Linked DNA regions of Homo sapiens: region 1 is linked to region 2. The links come from fine-mapping of genetic effects on gene expression. Tissue or cell type: whole blood. Region 2 holds a variant in brackets; the other region holds the start of a gene. All regions are shown on one strand. Distances are from middle to middle.

Region 1 (8,067 bases), 32 kb after region 2:
ATTAGCCGGGCGTGGTGGTGCATGCCTGTAATCCCAGCTACTTGGGAGGCTGAGGCAGGAGAATCATTCGAACCCAGGAGGCGGAGGTTGTGGTGAGCCGAGATCCTGCCACTGCACTCCAGCCTGAGCAACAGAGCAAGACTCCGTCTCAAAAAATAAAAAGAATAAATAAATCTCTTTTAATCTAGGAAAAATTTTTATATGTTTGTAGTCTGTTTTTTTTACTTAGCAGTATAACATAAGCATTTTCCTATGTTCTCAAAAACTCTTTGAAAGTATAACTTCTAATGTCTGCTTAATCAGCATATAAATATGAATACCATGTTTTCGCTGATATTTTCCTATTGTTGAACATTGGTGGTTTACAATTTTTGCTGCAAATGACATATATACATATTTTCATTATTTTGCATTTTTTTAGAACAGTTTACAAAAAGTTAGATTAATGAACCAAAGTCTAAACAATTTTAAGGCTCTTAATACGTATTATAGCTGAATTGCTTTCTGAAAGGGCTGTACTGGTTTTCTGTCCAGATAGGACTGGGTGGGGTCCCCCTCCCTCTCCACCCTTCACTGATCGTAAGGGAACTTCCACGCTGGGTGAGGCCAGCGGCCAATGCAGCCGCCTCGCTGAGCTCTCTCCCCTGAAGCTGGATATGCTGGCTTTACAGCCAGGACTCTGGAAGTGACTGAGGATTCCTCTGGTGACGCCCACGGAAGGTGTGGGGGGAGGAGGAACAGTGTTTCTGCAACGCAACTGGGAATGCTGAAAAAGTCATTGAAAGAGAGCACAGCAGCTGTGTGGACACTTGAAGTGGCGCCTGAGTAACTCACATGACCTGCTAGCAGATTGTTTTAACACACTGAAAACGTGGAGATTGTTTTATTATTTATTTATTGATTTATTTATTTTGAGACGGAGTTTCACTCTGTCACCCAGGCTGGAGTGCAGTGGCACGATCTTGGCTCACTGCAACCTCCACCCTCCGGGTTCAAATGATTCTCCTCCCTCAGCCTCCTGAGTAGCTGGGATTACAGGCGCCTGTCACCACGCCTGGCTAATTTTTTGTATTTTTAGTACAAATGGGGTTTCACCATCTTGGCCAGGCTGGTCTTGAACTCCTCACCTCGTGATCCACCCACCTCTGCCTCCCAAAGCTCTGGGATTACAGGCATGAGCCACCGCACCCAGCCGAAGATTGTTTTAACACAGTGTGAAAACATGAGCACAGAGACCCCTGAGCGGGCTGAGCTGGGGACTGGGGAGCGACACCCGTCACGGACGGTGCAGGGGCTGGGAACGTGGATCTTGCGTGTGAGTTCCTCCCATACTCAACAAGCCTTGCACATTCTGTTTCTGAACTAGATCTAACTTGGCAGCTGTGACCCCCTGGTGAGACTGCCGGATGTTCCCTCTCCCGCTTACCCTGCTTTCTTCCATGGGAAAAGAGCTCACATGCCCCAGGCTTCCTTGCCATAGAGTGTGGTCACGTGACTAACCATGTGAAGGGTGAGGTTCCCTCCTTCGCCCTTTCCTCTTCCCACTGGCTGGAACGTGGATGTGATGACTGGAGCTTGAGCAGTCATTTTGGACCAGGTGCTGGGACCATGTATTTAAGGTGGCAGAGCAACAAGCTGAAGGCATTCTGGGTCTCTGATGACTATAGTTCGGCCATACTAGTCCAGGACTAGCCAACTCCAGATTTTTGTTTTGCTTTGTTTTAAAGACAGAGTCTTACTCTGTCACCCAGGCTGGAGTGCAGTGGTGTGATCTTGGCTCACTGCAACCTCTGCCTCCCAGGTTCAAGCGATTCTCCTGCCTCAGCCTCCCGAGTAGCTGGGATTACAGGCGTGCACCACCATACCTGGCTAATTTTTGTATTTTTAGTAGAGACGGGGTCTCACCATGTTGGGCAAGCTGGTCTCGAACTCCTGACCTCAGGTGATCCACCCGCCTCGGCCTGCCAAAGCGCCGGGATTACAGGCATGAGCCACTGCGCCCGGCCAACTCCAGATTTCACTTATAGGAGAAATACACAGCTTGTTTAAGCCACCACCATTTTGCACACAGATCTGAATGTGTTCCATTTGGATTTGCCCCATCTGAGCTCACAGGTCCTCGGCCACCACTTCACTCGCTTGTCTTTGCCAAAGTGGCAAAGCTGTGGTCTCTGCTGCCATCCCAGCCTGCCAGGAGGTCCCCCAAGGAGAAACATGGGTGGGACCATGTTACCCCTTGGGGAAACCAGAGCCGACTGTTGGCCCTGGGCCTGGACCACAGCAGAGGGCTGCTGGGCTTGCCGGGGGGTGCTCTGGCCCCAGTGGGCCTGGAGCCGTTCCGTGTGACAGCGTCTGCCTGCGGAGCTCTGGCCCTGCCTCCCCAGCTTTGCAGCAGCTTTCAGAAGCAGACTCCTCGCCACACACGCTGCAGATAATGTGTGCCAGCCCACGGCCTGGGCCCCCACTCCCCGCAGCCCTTCCCTCCTCAGGGCACTCCACTGGACGGTCACTCTCAGGACACCCAGAGCCTGCCCAGCTGCCGCCCTCAGCCCAGGCTGCACAGAACGTGCTCAGGGACTGGGGATGCGGGGTGGAGGGCTCCTCCTCCGTTGTCTACACAGCCTGGGGCCAGCCACGTGTCCCCAGGACTCCAAGGATTCCCCAGTGGGGCCCAGAAAGCAGGGGCTTGGGTAGGAGCAGACAGTTTCTTTGGGAGTCTGTCTCGTCGTCAGTCCTCCTTGCCCCAGTTTCTCCTCTAAGGGAATCAGCACTGGACCTGTGGGGTGGGGGGCCGTGGCCCGGGGTGGGGGGCCGTGGCCCGGGGTGGGGGAGGCCGTGGCCCGGGGTGGGGGAGGCCGTGGCCCGGGGTGGGGGGCCGTGGCCCGGGGTGGGGGGCATGGCCTGGGGTGGGATGCTTTTGGAGGGAACATGGGGATGTGTGAGCGGGGGTGAGAGAGGCAAGGCAAGTGGGGGCGTTGGTGCTGGCTCTGTCAGGGGCTCTGTGCCATCCTGCTTCCCCCTAGGACCAGGTGTCATGAGACCCATCTCACAGTGGAAACCCCCTTCCCGGGAACTCCAGCCTAGGAATTCCCCTCTGGCCCCTGACCCGCCATCTGGGCTCCAGGAAGGTGTCCCAGGCTCCAGGGGCTGGGGTACTCTCCTGGCCTGGATGCTGGCTCCGCCCCGACTACACCCAGGCGCGGCAGCTGCAGGACGCTGGAGGAGGAGGAGGGAGGGGCGAGCCCCACGCGGAAGTCAGGTAGGAGCACCCGCCGCTGGCAGCCACTCTCCTGGCCGCCAAACCCCAGCTGGAACTCCGGCCACAGCCAGCATGCAGGTGAGTCCTGCGCTCAAAAGGGTCCACACCTTCAAGGCCCCCAGCCACGCCCACACCTGGGGCCCCCGGCCCCAGCCCCCCGCCAGCCCCACCTGGAAGGCGCCTGTGTGTGTGGGGGGGGTCCCTGCAGGCTGCCCGGTCAGGCGAGGGTGACCGCCCGGCTCAGCTAAGCTGCCTCCTGGACTCCTGGGGCACGCTGGGGGTTGGAAGTGCTGGAGGCGGGCGGCGTTCCTCCCTCCAGCCCGGGATTCTGAGGGCACCAGGGCTGGGCTCTCAGCTAGTGTGTGGGGCCAGGAACCTCTACCAGAGTCCTGAACACGAGATGGAGAGGGCCTGCCCACCGAGGCGGGGGCTGCTGCTGAGGACCCCAGACCTGGCAGCTTTGCCTTGCAGCTGGCCCCTAAGGGGGAGCGGGCTGTGGGCACCAGGCAGGCTGCCCCAGGGTTGGGAGCTGCAGAGTGGCCGGCGGGCTGTGGGCTCTCTGCTCCCCAAGGACCCCGCCCAGCACAGGTGGGGGCCGACTGCTGCTGCTGGATTCCGATTCTGGGGGTGGGCGCTGACTGCTGCTGCTGGATTCCGATTCTGGGGGAGGGAGTGCAGGTGAACACGTAGAAAGACATCCTTTCTCCCCTCTGCCAGTGAAGAGGTCACCTGGGGCCAGGGCCAACACCTGGGCAGGTCAGCACCTGGTCGGCCCAGGGAGGAGGCAGTGGTGAGGTGTGGAGTGAAACCAGCCTCCCTCTCGGCCTGCCAGGGCCTCCACGTGTGGGCTGCGCCGGCGGCCTCTTGCTCCATCTCCGCCCAGGGCTCTCCTCGGCCCTCCACATCCAGGTCTGACACCCTGGCTGCTCAGCCCAGCACCTGATGCCCCTTAGCCTGAGCTCAGGGTCCCCTCTGCCAGCCCCTTCCTCCCATGCTGGGGGTTAGAGGAGAGACTTGGGGCTGGCCAGGGGTTGGGTTGGGAGAAGCAGCACCTGGTTTGTTGGAAGTGAGAGCATCAGTCCTTCAAAAAAGACAGTTGCAGCCGGGCCTGGTGGCGCATGCCTGTGGTCCCGGCTACTCCGGAAGCTGAGGCAAGAGGATTGCTTGAACCCGGGCGTCGTGGCATGCACCTGCAGTCTCAGCTACTCAGGAGGCTGAGGCAGGAGGACTGCTCGAACCCGGGCGTGGTGGCGCGTGCCTGCGCTCCCAGCTACTCGGGAGGCTGAGGCAGGAGGACTGCTGGAACCCGGGCGTGGTGGCATGAGCCTGCGGTCCCAGCTACTCCGGAGGCTGAGGCAGGAGGGTTGCTCGAGCCTGGGAGTTCTGGGCTGTAGTGTGTTAGGCTGACTGGCTGTCCGCACATCAGTATGGTGACCTCCCAGGAGCAGGGGACCACCAAGTTGCCTAAGGAGGGGTGAACCGGTCCAGGTCGGAAACGGAGCAGGTCAAAACTCCTGTGGTGATCAAAAAGGACAGTTGCAGACATGGGGAGGACTTGCTAGTCCCAGCTCCAGGCTGGATCTGGGCGTGCCTTTCCTCTGCTCTAACCCCTTCCATGGCTCCCCACTGCCCCCTGCTGAAGTCCAAGCTCTCCATTTGGCCAAGAAGCCTAGCAGCCTCCCCTGATTGGCCTCTGCCAACCTCCAGCCTCCCCTTCTGGCAGCTCCCTTCTTGCCCTTTATGCTTCTGCAAAGCTGAAGTACCAAGGACTGAGTCCCTGGACTCAGTTTCCGTAGGTGCCGAGTGCTGAGTCACCAGGAGTAGTAGCTACCAAGTCCTCCTTGGAGGTGCTGAGTGCTGAGTCCCTGGGAGGTGCTGACTGCTGAGTCCCAGACACCAACTGCACCCTGATTCTCAGGGCGTGCCCACACATGTTCTTTCTCCCGGGAATGCTGCCCCCATTTTCTCACCTTTTGCCAACCTCTTGCCCTACAATGCCAAGCTCCATGCCTCCTCACCTGCCAAGTAGGCCCCCGCCCCTGCGTCCACGAACGCCACGCACTGCCTGGGAGGGCTGCACGCAGGTCGCTCCGTCAGTGTCTGGGGATGGACGGGCACACGGATGGGTGAACTGACAGATGACAGACTGGACAGCTGGAGGGGCCGGGGGGTGGGCAGAAGACTGGCTTCAGGAGCGCAGAGCCAGCTGGGGAGGGTTTGCTCAGAGGATGCGTGGGCTGGGCAGAGGCGAGACGCTGTGGCTCACAAGGTGGGCCTCTCCATGCTTGGGACTGCGGTGGGGCAGAAGGGGACCCTCTGTGGATGACGAAACTGTAAAGTTCTCAAGGGCCAGATCCCAGAGGGCTCAGGGCACCGGCCAAGAGGCTTGACGTGACCTCAGGAGGAGATGAGGCCCAAACACCTTCCCATGCACAGCTGGGGGGATGTGCGTCGTGGGACCCCCTGGCCAGGCCTGCTCCTTCTCATGCACAGCTGGGGGGATGTGCGTCATGGGACCCCCTGGCCAGGCCTCTCAGGAGTAGGGTGGGGTCATATCTGCACAACCATCTCCTCTGCCTGCCCCCAACCTGGAGGCTGGACTGGGAAGAGGATGGATGGGCAGGACCCCCAGCTCTGTCCTCACACTCCAGCCCTTGGGAGGGAGGGTCTCCTGCAGGCTACAGTGTCTCCAGAAGCTTCCTCACTGGGAACCAGGGGCTTGCCCACTGGACGCTGGCCTATGCCCACAATGGGGGTGCCAAGAGCCCCCCACAAACTCCCTGGGGCCCTGGAGTACTGGGTGTGTCACCTGTGAGGGCTGTGGGACAGGAAGGATGGGGGAGAACAGTGTGTGGTTCTGTCCACCTTCTTCCTGTGTCTGCACGTCGCTGAGGTGACCTGGGGGCTGGGGTGAGGACACCCTGTTGTACAGACGAGGAAACTGAGGCCTGGGGTGTTTCGGTGGCGTCAGAGCTAGGGCCTGGCCGGCTGTCCACCCAGAGCCGGCCTCCCTCTCTGGGTTTGCAGATGGCAAGGCTGGCTGAAGCTTCAGAGGCCCTCAGACTGAGTGTGTAGGGACAGCCCCTGTCCCTACCCTGGGAGCTGGAAGCCTGTGGGCCCATACATAGTTTCCCGGAGGTGGGGCCCATGGACTGGGGACATGGGGGTCCCAGACATCTCACTGTGGATAAACCGAACAGTCTGCATGGCTGGAAGTGGAGGTGACTTCAGGTGGTCCAGCCCTCACCTGTGAAGACCCCGAGGGTGGTGTGGAGAAGCCAGGCTCCCGTGGTCCGTAAACACTGGCCCTGGAGACGGATGGACAGATGGATGGCCTGGTCCTGTAGGCTGGTGGCTGTGGCCCGGGGGATGGGCCGGTGGGTGTGGCTCCGTAAACACTGGCCCTGGAGACGGATGGACAGATGGACGGCCCGGTCCTGGAGGCTGGTGGGCCCAGTGTTCTGCAGCAGAGTCTCGGAGCCTGAGGCCTGTCTGGCTGTGTGTGTTGGGGGGGCTACACCTGCCTGGCTGTGTGTGTCAGGGGGTGGCTACACCTGTCTGGCTGTGTGTGTCAGGGGGGCTACACCTATCTGGCTGTGTGAGTCGGGGGGGGGCTACACCTGTCTGGCTGTGTGTGTTGGGGGGACTCCACCTGTCTGGCTGTGTGTGTCGGCGGGGGCTACACCTGGCAGCCCTAGTGCTTCTGCCTTGTCCGAGGGAGCAGCTAAGGGCAGCCAGGGGCTGGCACGCCCCAGGTGTGCGTGTAGCTCTGCCCTGGGGGGAGGGCTCCCTGTCAGCCCACGTCAGTGATGGGGGCTTTGCACCCCATTCCCCAGGGGAGGCTGATCCTGCTGTTTGCAGAGGCGTGGGGTCATCACCCCAGTGCTGCACGGTGTCTTTGGTGGGGAGGGGGTTTCTGTGCCTCATTTCTGGGGTGAACGATGGCTTCCCACCCCCACCTTTGAGAATGTTCCCCAGGGACAGTCCCCTCTCCCAGGCTTCTCCGAAAGTCCTGCCTGGTCTGGGGTCCCTGCCTCGTCCCTTCCTTCTCAGGGGTCTGGGCTTATCCTGCCGGCTTTCAACTTTCGGCCCAGGCTGATGTGAGGGGGTCTCTAATTTCAGCCTCTGCCAGAGGAGCTGGGGTTCTGGGCAGAGGAGGGACCCTCATCCTGGGTCTGAAGCCAGGCATGTGAGGGGCCATTCTCCCATGAATCCCTCCAACACAACACTTCCCGGGCCCCTACGGAGGCAAGCTGCAGAGCTGGAGCCGTGATGCCCACGTCCCCCAGACCACCAGTCCCCCCCAGGGAGGCTGCCCTCTGCGCTGAGACAGAGGTGCCTCTCCTGCCTGGGCAGGTGCCACGCCCCTTCCTGCATATCTGTCGGAGGATGAAGGTTTCTCCTCTAACCCAGGACGGGGGAGAAGTTTCAGTGTGGCAGGCCACGCCTGAGTGCAGGTATCTGTCCGTGGGCTGTCGGGAAGGCCAAGGAGGGAGTCAGAGGAAGGGTTGATTGAGGCAGGAAGAACTACTGGTCTAGGATAGGACAGAAGGGCCAGGTGAGCCCCGTGGGCCAACTAGGGCAAGAACTTCCCCCCGCAGGGAGGCTGCAGTGTGGCACTGGGTGCTCAGATGGTGTCTACCTGAGCCCATCTCCCTGTGACCGGGGCGTCGGATGCCTTAGTGCAGTGCTCCCCAACCTTTTCAGCACCAGGGACCAGTTTCGCAGAAGACAATTTTCCCACAGCTGTGGGTGTGGTGGGATGGTTTTGGGATGAAATCGTCTCACCTCAGATCATCAGGCATTAG
Region 2 (8,067 bases):
CCCCGCACTGCCAAGTCGAATCTTTCTCATGTTTCTCCTGTTGGGGAAGGCCCCAGCTCCCCAGATCAGAAAGGTGGCATCTCGGACTCCTCTCCCCACTCACGCTTCCCACCCGACCAGCACCAGGCTGCCGCCCCGGAATACCCAGCAGGCCCTTGGTCTGCATTCCTGGGTCGCTTCCCGGAGCAGCTCCAGCACCTCCCTGACCCCAGGGCCACCCCCCAGGCCCCAGCACTCATTTGTCTTTCTAAACATCACACCAGAGGGGAAAGACAGACAGGCAGCCTCAGCAGCCCTGGAAATGCTGTGGCTGACACAGCCTTCAGAGGGAGCCAGGAAGAAAATGCCGTTCACACAGGAGGGATGCCCTCCTCAGTGGCCCAGAACGTTCCACCTCCCTCAGAGCTGCAGCCAACTCAAGTTTCCAAAGAAAGCAGCACCCCAGATGGCCGGGCTGGGCCCATTTCCACTCCTCCTCATGAGGCCCAGTCACTAATGGCTACGGCTACAGCTGCCGGACTGGGCATTCCTGGGCCAGACCCAGGGGAGTGTGAAGGTGGGCAGAGCCCACAGGGACCACCTTTCTGGAGAAAGCCCTTCTCCCTGCCCCCCACCCAGAGCCTCCGCTGCACAGGACTCATCACTTGTCCACTTCAATGTGTTGTGACTGCAGAGAGTTGAGGGCTCCCTGCCGGCCCCCAAGTTAACAAGACGCGTGGAAGAAGGTGGCTCCAGGACAGGCTTCCCCGTCAATAAATCGAAGATTGGCAAAGTAATATGGAATTTATGCCAAGCAAACTAAACGGACAGAAGAAAGGTAGAGCAGAGCTCAGACTAAAAACTGAACACCCCAGGAACCCCCAGTCCTGCCCAGTGGGAGGGGACGAGCCACAACTCAAGAGACGCCGCGGCCGGAGCTTTTGGAAGCGCCAAGACCTTCAGGCCCAGATGCTCCACATCCCGCCAGGTGACCTGCGCCAGAGCTCCTGACTGCTCAGAGCTGAGGGTCTCCCGGGAGTCTCTCCCTGTGCCAGGGGTCACATGCCAGGACAAGCTGCTGCCTGCTGACCAGTCTGTCCCACTCACGGCTGCGTCCCAGTCCCCAGTGATGCCGCCACCCAGGAGGGATTTGGTGCATCTCCAAGCAAGGACGGCCATGGGTTGAGCTTCCGGCAGCTTTTCTTCCCTCCAAATCCACCCAACAAGCACGTAACTGCACCAGGCTTTTCACTGTGTGCCGGGAAGTTTCTCACCATCACCGCGCCAGGCCTTTCACTGTGTGACGGGCAGTTTCTCACCGTCACGGCGCCAGGCTTTTCACTGTGTGACGGGCAGTTTCTCACCATCACTGCACCTTCCACGGCTCTGCTGAGGAATCCAAACCCCTTGGAGGCAAGACCGTCTGTGCTCAGCCGGCTGGGCAGACAGGGCCCTGGGCCCTTCCCACACAGCTGTCAGCCAGCAGAGTGGCCTGCCAGGCACTCAAGGAGCCCTCTCTCAAGGCCCTGGGCAAGGAAGGGGCCAGCAAGACCAGCCTGCTTGGGTCACCGGACGGCTCCCTGCTCAGGGCCTCTGTGGGTGGGGGAGCTTCACTCACCACCATGGCACTGACCCTGGGGCAGACACTGCTCTCCTGGAGGCCAATTTTATAACACATATCACAGGCTTAAACTGTGTATGCCCTTTAATTCAATACTCACTTCTGGGACATTTTATTAAATGAATAATCAGATATTTACACAGAGCATACGTGAAAAAATTCACCACAGCCTAGTTTATTAAAATAAAACTGGAAACTCTCTAAATATACAATATTATGGCTTAAATAAGTTAGTTAAATGTAGTACATTCTAATGACAGCAAACAAGCAGTCATTAAAATTTCGGGTGTTAAAAAATTAGTAAGGAAATGACTAAAGTCATTTAAACCTAAATGATTAAAGTCATTTTAAAAATTAGTAAGGAAATGACTAAAGTCGTTGAACCTGAAGTGGAGAATGCACAAAGCCACGTGTTCAGGATTCCACTCTTTCGAGGCTGTGAATATGTCTGTACACACAAACGCGTGAATATGTCCTACACACAAACGCGTGAATGTCCGTATCACACAAACACGTGAATATGGCCGTATCACACAAACGCGTGAATATGTCTGTATCACAAATGCGTGAATATATCCGTATCACACAAACGCGTGAATGTCTGTACACACAAATGCGTGAATATGTCTGTATCACAAACGCGTGAATATGTCCATACACACAAATATGTGAATATGTCCTACACACAAACGCGTGAATGTCCGTATCACACAAACGCGTGAATATGGCCGTATCACACAAACGCGTGAATATGGCCGTATCACAAACGCGTGAATATGTCCGTACACACAAACACGTGAACATGTCCATATACACAAAGACGTGATTATGTCCATATCATAAACGCGTGAATATGTCCGTATCACAAACGCGTGAATATGTCCGTATCACACAAACGCGTGAATATGTCCGTATCACACAAACGCGTGAATATGTCCCACACACAAACACGTGAATGTGTCCATATCACACAAACGCGTGAATGTCCGTATCACACAAACACGTGAATATGTCCGTATCACACAAACTCGTGAATATGTCCGTATCACAAACGCGTGAACATGTCCATATACACAAAGACATGATTATGTCCGTATCATAAACGCGTGAATATGTCCGTACACGAACGTGTGAATATGTCCGCACACACAAACACGTGAATATGTCCGTATACACAAACAAGTGAATATGTCCGTATCACAAACACGTGAAAATTTAACAGTGGTTATTATTTGTGGGTAGCTTTATTTTTAAGTATCTTTGTATTTTCGAAATTTTCTATAATACATACTCCTGTTGAAACAGAAAATGTTTCTAATTACTTCGTGTGGCCACTCAGGGGAAACAACCGACCCTACAGAAGCCTGAGCCCGCCTTCCTGGGGTGGGACTTGGGGGACAGAGTACACTGAGATTGGCGGGATGCTCTGGCCCACGAGGGTTTGTTAGAACTCAGGGCCATAAGGTGGGGTGGTGGCTGAGGCAGAGTGCGCTGGGCAACCACTTCAAGGGCAGGGGGTGGGCGGCACCTCACAGCTCCATCTGGAGCCCTCACCCACCCGCCCATGGCCTCACAGCCCCATCTGGAGCCCTCACCCACCCGCCCATGGCCTCACAGCCCCATCTGGCGCCCTCACCCACCCCCGCCCCCTCTGGTCTCAGAGTCCCACCTAGAGCCCACAGTCCCTGGCCTCACAGCCCCATCTGGTGCCCTCACCCACCTGCCCCCGGCCTCATAGCCCCATCTGGAGCCCTCGGCCACTCTGGTCTGTGGAAAGAGGAGGCAGAAGCAGGAAGAGAAGGGCTGGAGAGCCCTGGACAGGGAAGAGTGAAAGGGCCAGAGAAGGCCTGGAGAGACCCTCGGTGGTTGGAGGAGGAGCACACGGCCAGCTCAGAACCCCACGCCCTTGTCCATGTGGGAAGTGGCCTCGGAGGCCTCGGGGAGGGGCCAGGCGGAGGGGAGGACAGGACACTCACACCCAGCAGCACAGACACAGAGTGGCCGCTCAGAACAGAAATGCCACAGGGGCACACGGAAAAGGAAATGGCAAGTTACCTGGATGAGGTCTGGAAAATGGCCCGTCTTTAGCTTGTGTGACTCCAAAACATAAGAAAACCAAAATACTGGCCACAATACCTCTGCAAATAAAGAACAAACAGCCCCTCAGTGTGTGCAGGCTTCTCCCAGGAGGGAGGTGGGAGGCTGCAGGGACCCCCAGACACCCATTGTGGAACAGCCCCTGATGCTGGGGCGGGAGGAAGGGGCCTCGGGCAGAGCTGGGCGACTCCGCCGCGGGGAAAGCCCAGCTACCTCCACCACCCTGGGCCGGACATTCGCCCTCACATTTGCCGCCTCCGCGGCAGGGAAGGCCCAGCTACCTCCACCACCCTGGGCTGGACATTCGCGCTCACATTTGCCTCCTCCGCGGCAGGGAAGGCCCAGCTACCTCCACCACCCTGCACCCAACATTCGCCCTCACATTTGCAGCCCGCCCAGTGGCCAGGAGAAGGTCCCTGTGCTTGGGCTGCTGGTGGTTCCCAGTGTCACATCAGGAAGACACTGGCTCTACACAGAGGCCACCGAATGCCCCGCATGTGACCATCAGTGATCACAAAGCCCACGTAGGAGGGAAGGCGTCAGGAGCTACTGCCTCCCTGCTCCAACGCGGCAGGACCCCCAGGAAGTGTCTCTAGAGAGCTCCTGTGTCTTTTTGGTGTCAACTCATCCAAAACCAACGGGACTCCTGTGATTCATAAGATGGAAGCGTGAGAGCTGTAACTGCAACCAAAGATGCAGGTTCACGGGAAGGAGGATGCGAGGGACCGCTCTGGGCAGGGGCAAGGTGCTCCCTCCTCGGCAAAGCTCCTTGGGGCCGGCCTCAGCCAGAGTCCCAGTGGGTTTCGGTGAGCAGCAGCTTAGGCCGGCGGATGTGCAGACAGCCCTGGTCACAGGCACACTGCTCACATCCGCTCGCTGCACCCAAGGTGTGGACCCGCTCTGCGGACGCGCTCTGTGCTCTGCAGACGCTCGGATGCACCCATCCTCTCCAGTCGTGCTCAGCTCAGGGTCTGAGATCCACTGGCCGCTGCACCACCCAGTCCCTCCCACGGCTCGGCAGTGCCGTGCCGACAGTCACACCTTGGCGTGTTCGCACGCTGGGCGGCCTCTGGGTTTTGGCTGCCGTGAGGGAAGCTGCACACACACACGCACGTTCGTGTGGCCGCAAGAATAGACGGGGCCACAGAGACACGCTATCTATTTTTTAAGACAGCGCTGTTAAAAAATACCCAGTAACAACTTCAGTCTCAGAAATTCCCCTCTCTGCCTGCAGGAGTGCCTGGCCTCAAAGTCCTGAGTAGACAGAGGCAGGTGAGGCCAAGCACCGCCCGAGGCTTGCAGGATGGAGGAGGGCACAAGGTCGCTGGCCCCTGGTGCAGCCGGGACAAGGGTCTACTG[C/G]TTCTGGGCAGGTGCTGCTCTCCACCCAGAGCCCTGAGGGTCTCACCCTCGGCAGGACATTCATGGCCCACCCAGGCGAAACCTGAGTTTCTGACCCGGTCTCCACCCAGGCCCCAGCTCCCACACTACCGCTGTCAGCCTCCAGGGACAGAGGCAGAGATGCCCTCGCTGCTGGGTTCAGCAAGGTGGGGCCCGCGTCCCTGTCACCGGTACCCCTCCCGAGGTCTCTCAGTGCTGAGGGGTGGGAGGTGTAAAAAGTACCTTTCAGGGCCCCCTGGAGCCAGACATAGGCCCCACCTCAGCTGTGCCTCCAAGGGGCGTGGGGAGGGTCATAACATTCAGTGGAAAGACAGTAAAACGTCCCCCTACCCTCCCCAGAAAAGATAAAAATGAAAAGAGGAACATGGGCACTGGCCAAGGGAAGCTGCTCCCGGTGCAGGCGCACGTCACCCCAGGCCGCCATCCGCGTCACCCCAGGCTACCATCTGTGTCACCCCAGGCCGCCATCCGCGTTACCCCAGGCCACCATCCGCCCGACAGGCGCGCATCACCCCAGGCCGCCATCCGCGTCACCCCAGGCCGCCATCCGCGTCACCCCAGGCCGCCATCTGCATCACCCCAGGCCGCCATCCACGTCACCCCAGGCCACCATCTGCCCGACAGGTGCGCGTCACCCCAGGCCGCCATCCACCAGACAGGTGCGCGTCACCCCAGGCCACCATCCGCGTCACCCCAGGCCACCATCCGCGTCACCCCAGGCCGCCATCCACGTCACCCCAGGCCACCATCTGCGTCACCCCAGGCCGCCATCCGCGTCACCCCAGGCCACCATCTGCGTCACCCCAGGCCGCCATCCACGTCACCCCAGGCCACCATCCGCCCGACAGGCGCGCGTCACCCCAGGCCGCCATCCACCAGACAGGTGCGTGTCACCCCAGGCCGCCCTCCGCCTGACAGGCGCGTGTCATCCCAGGCCACCATCCGTGTCACCCCAGGCCGCCCTCCGCCCGACAGGCGTGCGTCACCCCAGGCCGGTGCTCCCTGAATCAGCTTGTGGCAGCCCCCACACGGCATGCTGCCCAGAGGCCAGCTCAGACCGGGTCACACAGGACTCTAACCTGGCCACACATCACATAATGTTTATGACAACTTTATAAGGCTAATTTGTTCATAAGAATTACTTGCCGGGCACAGTGGTTCACACCTGTAATCTTAGCACTTTGGGAGGCTGAGGTAGGTGGATCATTAAAGGTCAGGAGTTCGAGACCAGCCTGGCCGACATGAAACTCCTGTCTCTACTAAAAATATAAGAAATTAGCCAGGTGTGGTGGCAGACGCCTGTAATCCCAGCTACTCGGGAGGCTGAAGTAGGAGAATCACTTGAATCTGGGAGGTAGAGGTTGCAGTGAGCTGAGATCGCGCCACTGCACTCCAGCCTGGGTGACAGCAAGACTCAGTCTCAAAAAAAAAAAAAAAAAAGAATTACTTAAGTACTTGAGAAGGTGTGTCCCGTTGGGTAAGAATGAGGGAAGTGCTTTAAAAGGAAAACAAATATATTGCATTTTAAAAATAAATTTTTAATTTTAGAATGGTTTTAGATTTACAGAATTATTGTAAAAATAGTAAAAGCTCCCATATCTCACAGGCCCAGTTTTCCCATTAACATCTCACCATTAATAAGCCGGTGCTGGCTGGGTGCGGTGGCTCACGCCTGTAATCCCAGCACTTTGGGAGGCTGAGGCAGGCGGATCACAAGGTCAGGAGTTCGAGACCAGCCTGACCAACATGGTGAAACCCCATCTCTACTAAAAATACACAAATTAGCCAGATGTGGTGGCAGGCACCTGTAATCCCAGCTACTCGGGAGGCTGAGGCAGGAGAATCACTTGAACCCGAGAGGCGGAGGTTGCAGTGAGCCGAGATCACGCCACTACACTCCAGCCTGGGTGACACAGTGATACTCTGTCTCAAAAAATAAAATAAAATAAACATAAAAAATAAAAAATAAATAAGCCAGTGCTGCCACACAGCTGCTGAGGCCTACACTTCCTTCGCTCTCCCCTGATGTCCTTCCCCCTGCCCCGCCCCCAACAATCTCTTCCTGGAAGCCACATGGCATCTACTCGTTCTGTCTCTTCAGGCTCCCCGAGGCTGGGACGGTTTCTCAGACTCTCCTTGTCTCTGATGACCTGGATGGTTTGGAGGAGGCCTGGTCAGGAATTCTGTGGAATGTTCCTTAGTGAGATGGTCGACTATGCCTCTGCATGGCCGGGCTGGGGTCGTCGGGGTTGGGAGGATGGGGCAGCAGCCTCCCCGTCGGCCACGCCATGAACATGACCAGTGCATGCTGACCTGACCACTGGGCTTGGGGGTGTCTGCGGGCACCTCGGCTGCAGCGTCCTCCTCCCACTGCCCTCTCCGTGCTGCACGCCCAGGAAGGAGGTCAGGTCACCACGCGCAGCGCACAGCGGTGCCGGGAGCTCACGCCAGCTCCTGGAATGGGGGGATCTACCTCATTTACTGAAAACCTTCTGCAGGGAAGGTTGGTCTTGTTCCCTCTGTTTATTTACTCAATCACTTATATCACTATGGGCTCGTGGATGTTTATTTTCTACTCTGGGTTATATTCTAATACTACTTTATTATTTTGTTGCTCTTTGGCCACTGGGAGGCTCTTTCACTGGGACGCAATCCCGTGACTGTGGGGTTTTGTTTACAGAGCTCCTCACTTTCTGGAACTGCCAGGATCAGCTGATCCTGGGCATTTCCTGCCCCGGTGCTGGAATCAGCCATTTCTCCTCAGAGCCCTGGCCCCGTGGACTGGAGGGCACTAGGAACCAGGATCTGGGCCTGGGTGTGCTCACTGCTGCAAGCATAGCTGGTTCTAGGCCCCCTCAGCTTGTACAGCAACAAGATCTGTGTGTATCCATTAACCACTGCGCACACACTGTTTAACCATCTTTGTCTCTTCTGGGCTAAACGTGCAATGGTAATCCACCATCACAGCGGCC

Evidence for each region. PIP is the estimated chance that this variant, and not a neighbour inherited with it, causes the effect.
Region 1: ANO9 starts here. The variant in region 2 is fine-mapped to the expression of ANO9 in whole blood (INTERVAL, PIP above 0.99).

What each region holds. Positions count from the first base shown.
Region 1 is chr11:437,191-445,257 of GRCh38, reverse strand. It overlaps ANO9 (anoctamin 9), which reads left to right and starts at 3,247. Exons shown (of 23, transcript NM_001012302.3): 1 at 3,247-3,337. The coding sequence starts at 3,332. LOC105376506 (a long non-coding RNA gene) reads right to left here. Exons shown (of 5, transcript XR_007062542.1): 3 at 6,507-8,067; 4 at 5,278-5,359; 5 at 4,585-4,773. It also overlaps the pseudogene RN7SL838P. RefSeq lists enhancers at 1,849-2,646, 2,954-3,223 and silencers at 3,055-3,349, 3,394-3,473.
Region 2 is chr11:469,566-477,632 of GRCh38, reverse strand. PTDSS2 (phosphatidylserine synthase 2) reads right to left here. Exons shown (of 12, transcript NM_030783.3): 3 at 3,656-3,738. Among named protein-coding and RNA genes, the nearest start is that of PTDSS2, 23 kb to the right of the region's middle. RefSeq lists enhancers at 1-740, 5,253-5,775, 5,776-6,299. The variant C/G (reference allele first, on the strand shown) is at 5,057.